Homo sapiens: one gene and its partners. The protein of the gene in region 4 purifies or fractionates together with the protein of the main gene of each other region. This does not show direct contact. Each region holds a gene or a part of one and is shown on either strand. Other genes may lie near its edges.

What was found. Proteins that work in one complex are often made in the same cells at the same time.
Region 1: the proteins of SRGN (region 4) and MRPL3 purify together in Homo sapiens (affinity purification with mass spectrometry, with the first as the bait; one study listed by BioGRID). This does not show direct contact.
Region 2: the proteins of SRGN (region 4) and BTBD8 purify together in Homo sapiens (affinity purification with mass spectrometry, with the first as the bait; one study listed by BioGRID). This does not show direct contact.
Region 3: the proteins of SRGN (region 4) and AOC1 purify together in Homo sapiens (affinity purification with mass spectrometry, with the first as the bait; one study listed by BioGRID). This does not show direct contact.

The regions. Positions count from the first base shown.
Region 1 is NC_000003.12:131,468,468-131,472,137, reverse strand, and holds part of MRPL3 (large ribosomal subunit protein uL3m), read left to right. Parts: intron 1-858; coding exon 859-967; intron 968-2,364; coding exon 2,365-2,442; intron 2,443-3,670.
Region 2 is NC_000001.11:92,167,179-92,170,848, reverse strand, and holds part of BTBD8 (BTB/POZ domain-containing protein 8), read right to left. Parts: intron 3,002-3,670; coding exon 2,864-3,001; coding exon of another isoform or gene 2,855-2,863; intron 1,984-2,854; coding exon 1,854-1,983; intron 1-1,853. UniProt on the Homo sapiens protein: Involved in clathrin-mediated endocytosis at the synapse. Plays a role in neuronal development and in synaptic vesicle recycling in mature neurons, a process required for normal synaptic transmission.
Region 3 is NC_000007.14:150,855,351-150,858,764, reverse strand, and holds part of AOC1 (diamine oxidase [copper-containing] isoform 2 precursor), read right to left. Parts: intron 2,311-3,414; 5' UTR 2,295-2,310; coding exon 725-2,294; intron 3-724; coding exon 1-2. UniProt on the Homo sapiens protein: Catalyzes the oxidative deamination of primary amines to the corresponding aldehydes with the concomitant production of hydrogen peroxide and ammonia.
Region 4 is NC_000010.11:69,086,894-69,090,902, reverse strand, and holds the start of SRGN (serglycin isoform 1 precursor), read right to left. Parts: upstream 2,801-4,009; 5' UTR 2,746-2,800; coding exon 2,667-2,745; intron 1-2,666. UniProt on the Homo sapiens protein: Plays a role in formation of mast cell secretory granules and mediates storage of various compounds in secretory vesicles. Required for storage of some proteases in both connective tissue and mucosal mast cells and for storage of granzyme B in T-lymphocytes.

The sequences.
Region 1 (3,670 bases), on a different chromosome or scaffold from region 4:
CCTAAAACTTAATAGCTTAAAATAACAAACATTTATTACCTCAGTTTCTGTGCTCAGAAATCCCATTGTAACTTACCTGGATGCCTCTGACTTGGGGTCTCTCCCAAAGCTGCAGTCAAGCATCAGCCAGGGCTGTAGTCATGTCAAGGTTCTAATTGGGGAGAATCTGCCTCCATACCTACTAATAGTCCATTGGCAGACCTCAGGTCCTTCGTTAATAGCTGGAGACATCCTTGCAGCATGTCTCTCCATAGGACAGTTTACACTAGCTGTGGAAGTTGGCTTCCTTCAGAGCCTGGCAAGCAAGAGAGTACCAAGATGGAAGCTACAGTCTCTTTGTAACCAAATCTCAGAAGTGACATCTCATCACTCTTGCCATATTTTATTTATTAGAAGCAAGGGACTAGGTTCACCCAGACTCAAGGGGAGGGAATTAAACAGGAGCATGAGTACCAGGAGGTGGTGATCTTTGGGTTCCATCTTAATGGCTGCTTGCCATATCTGCTATAAGTACTTTGAAACTTCTAGAGCTTTTCCATTTTTACTGTGTCATCTTCACAGAATTAGGATGATAAAACTCCTGTTCAGATAAAATTCCCTGTGCTTAGCTTGCTGGTGTCTCACAATCTTGAATTAATCATTTTATATAGAATTAGACTCCAGGAAGGGGTGCAGACCAAGACAGAGATAAAGGAATATTTATTTGCAGTTTTAGTTGTATAGCCTTTTCTAGTTATTTAAATAAGAAGCTTTGTTAAAACTCTAACAAGAATGTGTACAGTTGGTACTAGAAAGTGTACAATTGGGAATGGTCTATGCTCTTTTCATTATGTAAATTCTAACGTTTGTTTTGTTCAGTATTGGTAAAGGTTTTCAAGGTGTCATGAAAAGATGGGGATTTAAAGGCCAGCCTGCTACGCATGGTCAAACGAAAACCCACAGGAGACCTGGAGCTGTTGCAACTGGTGTGAGTATAACTAGTGAAGCTCTTTTTAATGCTAAATATTCAACTTCTGCACATGTAGTCCTCAGTCCGTCCTTGATATGAAGTCACATAATTTTAGTCTGACACAAGGGGACTCCATGTACTTGTCACCCTTTTATGGATCCTTGCCCCTCACTCATTTCCCAGAGCCAGACTAGAATTAGTTATATTCCACAAGGTTAGCTGAGCATCTGTAGTTTGGCTGTATATACCCTGAGTCTAAATTTAAAATGTACTTTGTGCAAATGTTGAATTCAGTTTGTCTTTTGAATTAGTATCAGTTAACAATTCTGAAATAATTTTCTGTGAATTGTAGGATTGAGTAGATAAGTAAATGTATTGATAATGGAGCTAGGTTTCTCACTGTTGGAAAAGGGCGTTAAAGTATGAAAATGGGAAAATTAAAATGAACCCTATAGTGTTGAATTCAAACTATAAGTATGCATATACTGTTTGGTGGGGGAGGGGAATGCATGCATGCACACAAGGAAAAAATGTAGCACACAGAGAAACAGAGGGGTGTGTGTGTGTGTGTCTTAGTTCTGTCTACTGGAACATTGTAGTCATATATAACGGAATATATTTGTAGAATGAATAAGAGTGATACTTAGTCTGTAATACTCAGAATTGTCTTTTAAGCCTGTTGGTTACATATTAAACATATCTAATGCCATGATGAGGTACTTCCACTGAGAGTTTCACCTGTTAATGTGAGAGCAGCTGATGGAAAAGTGTTTATATTGTGAGAATTCATGTGTTATAAGAAGCTGTTCCATTTTAGTCATAATTCAGATTTGCTTCTTTAGATGTAGAACTATTACCCGTTATCAGAGCCAAAATCAGAGACTGTTAGATTTATGTAAATCAGAGAAAACCAGGGCTAGACAAACTAGTATTCTGATAACTAACTCTGTCCTTGAATAATTTTGGTCAAGGAAAGTAACATCTAAAGCAAGGAGCAGTAGGACCATTCCAGCACCAGTGGTATGGATGAAGTCCATTAAGTCAGTTAATACAGAAGATGAGTTCAAAACAGGCCTGGCAGTCCATTTTTTTTCTTTGAATGATGGTGTCGGTGTGTCTGTATGCCCTTGTCCTTTTTTAATTCTTAGCCAGTATTAGGTCCGTTGTTGCTGAGTTTTTCTCCTAAATCTGCTTCTTAGTCTGTATTTATTTTATCATTCTAGTCTCATTAGAAAGGAAATCCTCTAGGAGTAAATATGCCTAAATCCATATTTAGTTCCTTACTTGGGACCTAGCAGAATAGGGGAAAAATAAAACATTTTAATAATTTATATTTTTAGTTTACATTGTGGTTTGATCAGTGCTGTTTAAAATTGATAGTACTTAAAAGTGTTAACTTTAGTTTTCTCATTTAGGATATTGGCAGAGTCTGGCCTGGAACTAAAATGCCTGGAAAAATGGGAAACATATACAGGACAGAATATGGACTGAAAGTAAGTGTTACAAGTGGTTCTTTTTAGGAACAGCTAAATTGTCTAAATGCAAAGGCAGCAGAATATGTATTTAATCTGTGTCTGTACCATTGTTCTAAGAGGCTTTAAAATTATTGAGGAAAAGAGGATACATGAATTGTGTGTGTGTGTGTGTGTGTGTGTACACTCTAGTTGTAGTAATGGTGGTAGTAATGATAGGGTATATTTCAGGCCATGAAAAGTGCAGTCATTAAAGAGACAAAATTAGTAGTCCACTCTTGGACCTGGAAGATTTTTACAAGATATTGTTGCATGAAAAAAGTAAGATTCAGAGCATTCAGTATAATACTCTTTATTGAGTAAAAGATTTAACAAAAGCTCTCTACGTGTGTATGTTGCTGTGCCATCATATAATCACAGAAGAGTGGAAGGGTATATACCAGGTTCTTGGATTATATATCAAATGTGTGTGTGTGTGTGTGCGTGTGTGTGTGTAAGTGTAAGGAGGAGAGTGGGAGGCAATCAAAATAGGAGGAAACAATAGCACTACAAAAGGATTATGATATACATCCGTTTTTATAAAAAATGTCTGTGTATATTTAAAAGAGAAGTTGAATTCAATCTCTACCAATGAGAAATGTACCTAAGTAAAACTGAGTTATACTATAATGGATGCTGTATAATTATATTTCTGTTAAACAACTAATGTTTATATTTGTTTGCATGTATGTTTTAAAGTGTAGGAAGTACAAAGAAGAAAATAAGCCACCAATAAGAACAATACCCAAAGACAATCACTGGAAACATTTTGGTGCATATCCTCCCAGTCTCTATTCTGCATACCTTTTATATATAAATTTTGACCAGGAGAAGTTTTCAAATTTTATATAATTAAACCTAAGATTTTTTTTACCCCTTCTATTACATTTATACTTATCAGAGACCATCTATTTGCTGTATTTTCTTCGTGTGTGTGATTTCAATTTTTGTAATATTTAATACTTATTCATTATTAGATAGGAGCCATGGGTCAAACTTGATTCCTTATCCAAATATTTTATTTTCTCAGTACCATTTTTTGACCAATCATTCTCTCCCATTTATGTACGTTTTTTCTCCACATGAAGATTTTTTGAGGACCATCTACTCAGCCCACTTACTTTAGAAATTAGAATCAGTGAGGTTGTGGCTTCTCCAGCCTCTAGTTACAGCAAGCTAGTATTAACTAAAAATAAAATAAAATTGAATT
Region 2 (3,670 bases), on a different chromosome or scaffold from region 4:
TAAATAAAAATTCATTTTATAAGTTAGGTTTATATGGGAATTTATTGCAGAACTCATGTCTATGCTCTTCAAATAAGAATTTGAATGTCAGGAAAATATGTAGGCTGGAATAATTATATGAGAGCTACAAATATAGTTTAGCAAATGTATTTCTTTTGAAGGTTACTGGGATTTAAGACATATTTTGAAGAAATATATACAATCTCTGAAAATTATTTGATTTTTATTAAATCAGCTAATAAAAAATACATTAAATTATCTGTAACTACCATGCATCTTCCATGATCTCTATTCTATAGGATATGTGCTATAAGACAAAGCAGGATCCTGAAAATGGCACTATAGGACTGATTTGCAGTAAGCAAATGACTCTGCACAATAATACACAGGAAGAAATTAAACTAAAAAATTTCTCCCAAAGGTCAGTAACTCAACTATGACATACGAAATGTAGTAACAGACAACCCAGAACCATTCCTTTATCTGGGTTTCCCAATGAAGTAATTATGCATAAGTCAGAACTCATTATAATTCAACTTATTTAAGATTAAAACATTATTATTACACTGATATAATGTAACAGAACGAAAAGTCCTTTTTGACAATTCAAAAAGGATTGTTGGATTAGCTGGATAGTTGGATTACCAATAACATTTTATTTAAATATGGGTATTTACATGTATTTTTAATTAGCACTTTGAAGAATTAAAGAACACAGAAGCTCAACTTAACTATGAAATCCTCTAAAATAGAGAAAACCAAAGTTTGCTACTAATCGGAAGAGAGCTGAAGACACCTACTGAAGGAATGCTGATCTTATCTTGTTACTTTACATTACATAAATTTTGTAAAAATAAACCATCATTTAAAAATCAGCACAGAAATAGTCACAAGGAAAAAAATGTCCAATTTCTAAGAGATTCTTCTCATAATTTTTGTTTAAAATAATGGAATTTCTTTGAAAAGTGCTCTTCATATCACATCTAGCTACACTATCATGTAATGCTTATAATGTAAAAGCAGATCCTATTCTGATGATACCACTAAAGAATTTAAATATTTATGCATTCTCAAAATATATTTTAACAGACATGGCTTCCATGTTTACAGTACTAAAATGTTTGCTTCATAAAATTCAGTCTCTTAAAATGTTTTAAAAAGTATACACACTGAATATGCCAATATTTTATCTAAGGCACCTGCTTTAACCCAAAAATAGTCATGAAGACATTTTCAGTTCCACACCCTCAAATTTTTATTTTGATATTTTTTTTAAACACATGTTCTGAGCAATATACATCTTTTGTTTAATGCTAATGTTTCAGATGATACCTATTAAATGTCACAGACCACTGTGCAGCTCCTGAGGGACAGTCCGCAATAGCACACTCCACATCATTGAACCAATCAGTTGTGAAATAAAGCCATCTATTCCAGGCAAAACCACAAGAAAGGGTGTCTTATGAAAAAGATGGAAAAGCTTTATGACAAAACATATTTAAAAAGGAGGAAAAAGTATGTTCGATACTCTGTTCTATGTGGGTTACATTTTCTTACACTTTTAATCTCTTCACAAGAATGCTTGTAAGCAAATTTGCCTAGAACATTGTTGCTAATGTATAGTAAGATTAGAAACATATATATATATAAAGGAAATGAGTTTCATTTTCTAAGAACAGCTAAAAAGCATGATTTATTAAAACTGCCTAAACATATGAGCACCAGTTTCAGTTATCCTATTATCCAACAGAAGCACACAAATGTTAACCTTTTCACTTATCAGAATGCCCTCAAAATATCTGCTGTCACAATGATCATTACATAAGAATTGAAATATCTCAAGGCTAACGTACCTGCTTGGATTTTCTGTTGATCATCTGTGCTCATCAGCTTCCAGCTTTCTGTGTGACGAACAGCATAGAAAGACTGAACCAGGAAGATCCACAGCTTATCACGCAGAGCCTGGATCTTGCACGTAAAACCCTGTGTTCAAGCAACAAATCAGCAGCTGGTGAGAGCCACATTGTCATAGCAACCAGTCATTATTCCTTTCAGAATCTACTTACTCCTAAGCTAGATCAATGATGTCATCATTTAGATTTTTAAGATCGTTGGGTACATGTTATTTATGAAGACTTATTAATAACAAAATTTTATAAATGAACACAAAGCTAAAAAATCTCATCTTTTCAACCAAATGTTATTTTAAAACACCAATGCCCTTGATATGAACACCTTCCACAGCCTTTTCATATCAACTATGACATTACAAGGTCAAATGCTCTATGGAATAGTAATAAATATGATACATTTTAAAAACCATTCTTGTCGAACAAATACAGAATGCCAATAATTTGTAATTACCTAATTAATGGCCACTGATTAATTGTATTTAAAAATAAATATTTTAATTTTGCTTCCCAGCCTAATTTTAAAATATGATTTTTTGAAGAGAAAAATTAAGATTATAAAAATAAAAGACACTGATGATTAAAAACTCTAAAATATACATTTATATCTAAAATATACATTTTATATCTAGAAAATTTACTGTAGGACCAGGGAGAAATACGAGAGTTATGCTGTGCCAAATAATGTTGCTAAATATCACACTAAATTTAAAATTACCCAGCCAAACTGCCAATTTCTAAACTTTTATAAGAAGTCCATTTGGAGACAAACGGAATTTTTAAAATTTAGTATTATAAAAAATTCCAAACATATACAAAAGTAGAGACCTTAATCCACCCCTAGGTATCCACTGCCTAGCTTCAATGACCCTGCAACATTTAAAATGCACATACATCTAAAAATCTTAGTTCAAATATTGCATTATTTTAATAAATTTCATTACATTCAGTACCATTTCCTTTGTACTGTCAGAGTTCAGCAGTGTGTCCAGAGCCATAAGAAGAGAGCAGCTATTTTCAGTGGTGATATTTTCTTCAATTGCTTTTAAAATTGTGTCCAACAGATCGGCTGTGCTGCTCATTGCTTGTGACTATAAAACACAGAAATTAATATTTAAGAGGAATACATATAAAATGCACAAGAAATGTGAAAGTCTGGCGTAACAGATCATTATAACTAGCTGTATGAAGTCAACCAGAAATCGTATTTTTTCCCTTTGTTAAAAAATTCGCATATATGCATATGCACGCAGCTTTTATTTTTATTTATTTATTTTTATTATACTTTAAGTTCTAGGGTGCATATGCACAACGTGCAGGTTTGTTACATATGTATACATGTGCCATGTTGGACACACAGTTTTTAAAAGCCAACATAGCCCTAAATACAGAACCTAGAAATAAACAATAGGAGTTATTCTGTGAATAATTTTAGAGAAAGTAGCTTCCCAATAAGACAGAGAATTCTGCATGGATCATAATTGTATTACTGGCCAAAACAGTACCTTTATGACTTTGGTTTCTAAAATGTGGCTTGCTGAGGGAGGGCTAGAGTTGGCCAGAATTACACTGTGCCTTGCCAGGGCACTCAAACCTGTCCCTCTCGCCTTTCTCATCTTGTGAGCCAAATATCCTGTCCATCACTGCCTTAAATCCTATGTAAACATGCCATCTGCTATGGAGTTTATTTAAATCACATTAATTTAATCAAAAGCAACCTGCATTTAAAAGCTCTTACATAATTGAAATCAGAACACAAA
Region 3 (3,414 bases), on a different chromosome or scaffold from region 4:
GCCTGGAGGTATGCAGGGAGAAGGAGAACGAGAATCAAGCTGCCAGAACTGAAACCTCCTCATTCTACCCCAGGATCTCCATCCTCCACCACATCCAACAGCCAACTGTCTTGAATAACCGGGATGTTGGGGGATGCCCTGGGCGGCTGTGGTGATTCCATTACCACTCTGGGAAGTTCCTCTCAAGAGCTGTGCTCATGCCCATCTGCTGTGGCTGCAATCCTAGAGCAGGGGCACCCATTTTTCTCCAGGCATGGGAGGCTCTGTCCAGAGAGGTGACTGGGGCTGAGGGGTAGGAGCCGCCCGTGTGGTCCTGGTGGCCTTGTTGGGTCTGGCAGCATTAGTTATTCTACCCATGCCATTCTTTTATGGTGATATCATCCAGGAGACACCCTGAATATTCCCAGACAATACTACACTCCATCTCAAAGCGCTAGACAGTGACATTTCTTACCCTCATAGGCACCGTCCCCTCCCTTGCCCCATGCACAGCCCCAGGGTCAGGACAGGGTCCACACTGTTGCATCCAGGGCAACCCTCGGCACTGTTCGCTTTCACCATTTTTCAGGGACACACAAATTTCTAGCTTTAGGTTTTACAGAAGCAGGCTTGGCAAATGCTCCTAACTTTCCACCACCAGGGAGTTATAGTGCCGTCTCCTGGGAGTTTAAGTTATTGGCTGGATGCAGATGTTTGAACGGGAGAGTCTCGCTTTGAGTCCTACCTGCCACATCCAGGTCTACGCGGTAGTGCACCAAGTGAGTGTGTATGTTGCCAATCAGGTGGGTGTGCAGGCGAGTGCCGTGGCGCAGCCCCTCGGGGGTGTAGAAGGTGGCGTGGACGTAGCCAGTGGCATGCATCTTGGCCTCCATCACCCCGTTGGGGTAGAAGATAAAGTCCCAAATGTAATCATAATTGTAGACAGTTGAAGTTGTCCGCAGCACCAGCACCTGGCCCTTCAGCCCCGCATAGAAGTTGAAGCCACCTTTAAAGTTGGAATTAAAGTGCCGCCGAAGGGGCACCCCTGTGGGCATTTCAAAGAGGCAGAGGGCTCGGGGATAATGGACCGGGTCATCGGCATCATAGTAGTGGAAAGTGTCCAGGAAGGTGGCGGTCTCCGGGCAGTCGATGCCGGGGGCTAACTCATGAGTGACGCTGCCCAGGCCCCAGCCGACATCGAGGTACTTGGTCTGCATGCCTGCAGGTGTGTGTCCTCCATACAGCGCCACTGCCTCTTGCACGCTGACCTCATAGGCAATGCGCTCTCCGCCGAAGTGCACGTTCAGGACCTGCAGCCCGGAGGAGGAGCGCAGCCGGAAGGCAAAGCTCCAGCCGCCGTAGAGCACAGCGTTGCCCTCCAGCCTGAAGCGAGGGCCGTGGGGCTGGACCAAGCGGGGGCCGCTCACATGGATGGGGCTGGGGAAGTCCCCGCGGGGCTTGTGGGAGGAGAAGAGGGGCGGCTCCTCTGTGCTGTCATGCCCCTTGCCCCCAGGCAGCGGGTCCTCCAGGACCACCACGTCCACCTCTCCATCTGCATACTTCCGAGCCAGTTCCTCTGGGCTCCCATAGAACTTCCCGTTGTACCACACCTGCTCCACGGCCCAGTGCCCAGCATCTGTGCTCCCATGATCCACGAGGAGCTCCAGCCCAGTGGGGTGCAGAAAGTAGCCTTCTACATAGCGCTGTATGATAAGCCAACTGCGGCGCTGGCCAGAAGCCACACCCCGGGGGGCCACATCGGTGAAGGCCAGGCATCTGTCATGGCAGTCTTGGAATGAGAAGCCTGTGGTATTGAGGAAGAACTGATGCAGGGGCTTGGTGGCTTCCTGCAGGGTGTGGTAGAGGAGGGCATACTCTGCTGTGGAGATGGGCCTCGATGCCCAGGAGGACTGGTACCCAGGCCTGGGGGACAGTGCTCGCATGTAGCAGGGCCCTGGCAGGGGCCCCACAGCAAACTCGGTGACATTGGGATGCTCCTGGTCACCAAAGAAGATGACGGCACGGGCTTCCCGCACAGGATGCCTTTCACCTTTATCCAGAAACCTCAGCACATGGTACTTCTTGGGCAGCAGCATCTCGATGAGAAACACGGTGTTCTTGGCCATGGTGGTGGTACTGGAGGGCTGCAGCCTCAGCTCCTTCTTGGACCAGAGGAAGCTGTGCACTGCCTTCAGCTCTTGGTTGCTTAGGTCTGAAAACACCCCTGCCTTCCTGGGCAGAGTCCCCGGGGAGGGCTCCGCCATGGCCGTCTGCAGCATCAGGATGGCAGCCACGGCCCAGCCCAGGGCCGGCATCTCTCGCTCCACGGCTCTGGAATGCAATAGAGGAGATGAACTTAGTTGTCTTATGGGCAGAGATGGGCTTCCCTCAGGTTAGGGCCATGGAATTTTCCCATGGACTGAGCTTCCTCCCCTTGCCCTGCCCCAAGCTGGAGGCTGTCCTGGGGCAGCTGGGGCCCCATGCATAGTCCCCAGCGCCGTCGGGCCGCTGCCTGTGCATCCATCCATTTATTTCTGCCCTCTCCTCACTCCTCTGTAAATGTCCTTCAGTCCTGCAGCCTTCCTTACTCAGGGGAACACCCTTGTTTTTGTGTATTATCTCAGCCAGGGGTGCCGTGAGTCACAGAGGCCAGGCTGGGCCCCTGCACATGCCCCCAGGTGCTTCTTGTGTCCTGGAGAAGAAGACACCTGTATTAACAGCAAAACTACATTTCTGACACAACGAAATACCTTTTAGGTAGACAGATTTTGAAATTTAGTGTAGAAATTCAAAGGTAGGCTCTAGAGTCAGGCTGTCTGAGTCAAGTCCCAGTGACTCATGCCACTAGGACTTGCTGTGTGGCCTTGGGCACGCTGCTTAAACTCTCTGGGCCTTCATGTTCTTAGTTTTAAAATGAAAATAATGACAACAGTGCTTAGCTCCTAGGGTTGTGGAGAGAAATCAATTAAACAGTAAATATAAAGTGTTTGTAACAATGTCTGCCATATGGGAAATACATGAGAAATGTTAGCTGCTCTTCTTGTTAAATACAGGCTATCGACACCAGCCCATTTAAAGTTTTACGCAATGTAGAGTGATTCAGGTGTGACTAGGCTGCAGACTGATGGCTTTGGGGGTGAGGTAGAGGTGCCCAGTCCTGCCTAGCCTTCTTTGTGCCCCATTCACCTCTCTTGTCCACCCAAGGCTACTAGGAGGGGACCTCAGGGAGGGTTTCATCTTAGGAAGATGCCTTTTCCTTTCTCAGGGAGGGTGGGTCAGGGTCTTCACCTCATAACCCCATTCCCCAAGCAGCTGTAAAATCCTGTGCTTGTAGCTGTGAGCCTCCTGCAGGGCTGGGAGACGTGGTGGCCACAGCTCTGTCTTCCCATGTGCTGTGTGCGGAGTCTCTGGGAGACTGTTACTCTTGCCTGTTGC
Region 4 (4,009 bases):
GCAATAAAAGTGGAAGATTCACAGGCCTCATCAAATCCCCTGGAGCCCTACATTAAATAGATTAGTCATCTGTGCTCTCCAGAGTTACACATCCCCAAATTTCCATTTCTTTGTGCTTGGTAAACACAATCTTACCCCACATCTTTACTTGGGTTTGACTTATAATAAAAATATACCACCACCAAATTCATATGTTCCAGTTCTAACCCACAGAATCTCACAATGTGAAATTGTTCAGAAATAGGGTCATTGCAGATATAGGTAGTTAAGATGAGGCCATTAGGGTGGCCCTGATCCAATGCCTGGTGACCCTCTAAGAAGATGGTATTAAGACACGGATGCATGGAGGAAAGGCCATGTGCAGACAAGGGAGAAGGCGCCATCTATAAGCCAAGGAGAGAGGCCTCAGAATGCGATCGACCCTGCCAGCACCTTGATCTTGGACTCCCATCTCCAGAACTGTGAGGAAATACATTTCTGTTATTTAAGCCACTCAGTCCGTGGTACTTTGTTATGGCAACCCGAGCAAACCACTATAGTGACCTGAAATGGTTTTGAATATGCTCAGTAAAAGCAAGCCAAAAGCCTAGTTGATTTCATCTGCCAAACCAACGGGCTAGATAAACACTTTTTATAAGACAGGAAGAATGTTGTCGAATCATATCTGGCATTGCGTGGAGGTGTGAGGAAATGGTGTCACGACTCTTCACATCACAGCCTTGTGCCGCAGTCACTCACATGTGCAGCCAGTGGGGGACATCTATTTCCCTGCATGCTCAGATGTGGGCACAAGCCCTTGAGCCCGATACTGAGAGCCTTTTTTCGGAAACACCCTAGTTTGTCAGTTTCTCCCTTGTCTCTTTCTATGGTTTCCTTTTCTAACAAAGAGCTAAACCTACGAGGTCATGACATAAATGCTAGTATTCTATACAATTTCATGATGAATTATTTTCTTTCCTTCTCTTTCTTTCTTTCCTTTCTTTCTCTCTCTCTCTCTTTCTTTCTTTCTGACAGAGTCTTGCACTGTCACCTAGGCTGTAGTACAGTGGTGCAATCTCAGCTCACTGCAACCTCCACCTCCCAGGTTCAAGCAATTCTCCTGCCTCAGCCTCCTGAGTAGCTGGGATGACAGGTGTGTGCCACCATGCCCGGCTAATTTTTTTGTATTTTTGGTAGAGACGGGATTTCACTATGTTGGCCAGGCTGGTCTCAAACTCCTGACCTCATGATCTGCCTACCTTGGCCTCTCAAAGTGCTGGGATTACAGGCGTGAGCCACCATGCCCGGCCTTCTTCATTTCTTTCTAATGAATATTATACAAGGAACGTTTTTGTTTTCATTCTAGTTTTCCTTAATGAATCTTAGTGGGAAATTCATGTTTCTGGGAAATTTTGACAACATAAAGACTTACATATCTCTGGTTGGGGTATGCCCAGCACCATCTGGCCATTCAAGACTGTACTAAAGTATGGGCCTCATTACTCTCGATCTTGTCAGACCACTTGGCTATTCGGGAATTATTTCATCAAGCTGAAGATATTCCCTAAAAGATCCCAGTGAAGCCTGTTCCCTACAATTGACAATGTTTTATATTTTAAAAATACATAAATTAATAACGTTCCAGAAACATTACTTGCTCTTTTTTCAGCATTAGCATAACTAGAAGAAAATGATTTTATAAATTTCCAACATAAAATGAATGTCTCTGCGATCATCTGTAAGATTTCATCTCCACCGGAAGTAAGATCATGACAACCAAAAGTCGCTTTGACGAAACAAATCTAGGACATGTGTGTCATTGTGACTCAACATTTCCCTTACCATTTGGCGGAACCTAGTGTTTTTCTACTATAGGTTCAGCCATCTCTCTATCAAGCCATGACCTCCGTCTTATTTAGACATGATTCCTTATTTGCCAAAGAATAACAAATTGTATTTTTCTTACAAGCCTATCATTTTCATTGTCTTAGTCATTACAGGTTTTAAGTTGTTTCAGTCTGACTAAACAACACTAAATGGTAGATAAACCTAGGAAGATATTTCCGAATATGATGCTTCTCTGAGCAAGAGCACAAATACCAAATTATTTGGCCTTCTCTTTAAAATCTGAGAGGTTTTACATGAACTATGTCTAACCATAATTGAGTTTTCAGTAAGAACCAAGTTTATCTTTAAAAAAAAAAAAAAGAAAAGAAAATACACACAGTCAGATTCACCCCAATTGGAATATAACGTCTCCCAGTGTTAAAATAACAATGACACCGTCACAGCGCACTAAAACTTGGGGCTGATGTAGACACTTAGGGGTAGGCAGACACCCCCCAACAGTCAAAGGTGCCATCTCCTCCATGCAACAGGCACAGGAGTCATTTTCTAGATTCCTTTTTTGAGCTTTTAAAATTTATAAACCTCACATTTTCATCCCAAAATAGCACATTTCAATCATTGTAAGAGTTTACAAGACTGCACACGCCACAGAGTTTAATTTTTCTTGGTACCAAACTTAACAGAACTCATATTAAAGGGTTCAGCGACCCCAAATCCTTCTTCTTTGCCTCCTTTCTCACAATATTATACATTCTATGCCTTAAAATGAATATAATGACTTGCATGGACCACAGGGCTTACAGAGAAGATGGCTGGGGAACAAGACTCCTGAGTCTTACCTTGAACTGAGGATTCCAGAACCAGGATGAGGGCAAGAGCCAGGACAAGCCGACTGCATTTGAGTAGCTTCTGCATCATGACCAACTTAGTCTAGCTCTCCCAGCTGCACGCCAACTTCTTGATTAGGAAATGTAGCAGGGTGCTCTCTGTCCCTTTTAGAAAATGTTCCAAAACCTCAAACCCTGCCCAGAACACACGTCACAATTTCCTGAACAAATAGAAAGACATCCACATCAAAACCCAGAAAGAAAGGGGGTGGGGGGAACACAGTAAAATAACTATTCATACCCATTATGAAACTGTACTGGACTCCCCCCAGGCCTGCTTTTTCAAAAGTTTTGTTGTTTGCCACTTGCCTGCAAGACATTTTTTTTTCCCACCGAAACAGTAGAATCAGCATTTGGGACAGTTTGTTTTTCCTTTCTTCAGGTAACAATCTAAACACTAGATTGCTAATATTAAGAATCTGCTGCATTTTTTATGAGATAAGGGATCTAGGTGCTGCCTTTTCGTCACCAAGCACTTTCAACATAAAACATTCTCTTCATTTTCTTTTTCACCGGGGAGTAACATACCTCACTGAGCCAAGCTCGTGAAGTGAAACTTCAAAGCTGAGCTCTAACCTTCAAGAATGAGTTGTCGGATTTCAGATGAACAGTTTCTTCTTCTTCTTTTTCTTCTTTTTTTTTTTTTTTTTTTTTTTTTTGAGATGGAGTCTCACTCTGTCACCCAGGCTGGAGAGCAGTGGCGCGATCTCAGCTCACTGCAACCTCCATCTCCAGGGTTCAAGCAATTCTCCTGCCTCAGCCTCCTGAGTAGCTGGGATTACAGGCGTACACCACTGCGCTGGACTAATTTTGTATTTTTAGTAGAGACGACGTGTCACCATGTTGGCCAGGCTGGCCTCAAACTCCCAACCTCAGGCCATCCGCCTGCCTCAGCCTCCCAAAGTGCTGGGATTACAGGCGTGAGCCACCGTGCCCAGCAAACAGTTTCTTCTTAAACTCAGTTTCTTGCATTGGATCATTGGCTCTCTCTCTATCTCAAGAACATAGGATTTTCAGTTACAAAGACTGTGGTAAAACAGAAAAACTATTTTGCATTCCCCTCTCCTTCACATTGAGCATTTCTTAAGATGGATTCCATTTCTATTTTTATCTGTTCTCCTAGTCAAAATTTTCAACTCGAGTTTTGGGTCCTCTGGCCTTGAATAAGCCAGAAATCAGGAACGAGGGAGAGGTTGTCCTCACAGTGAGCTGCTGGACCTCAGCAAACAACACAAACCTCTGCCTCATGTAAATAAAGGAACAGCATTTTCCCTGGGCATGGTGCAGATTTCTGG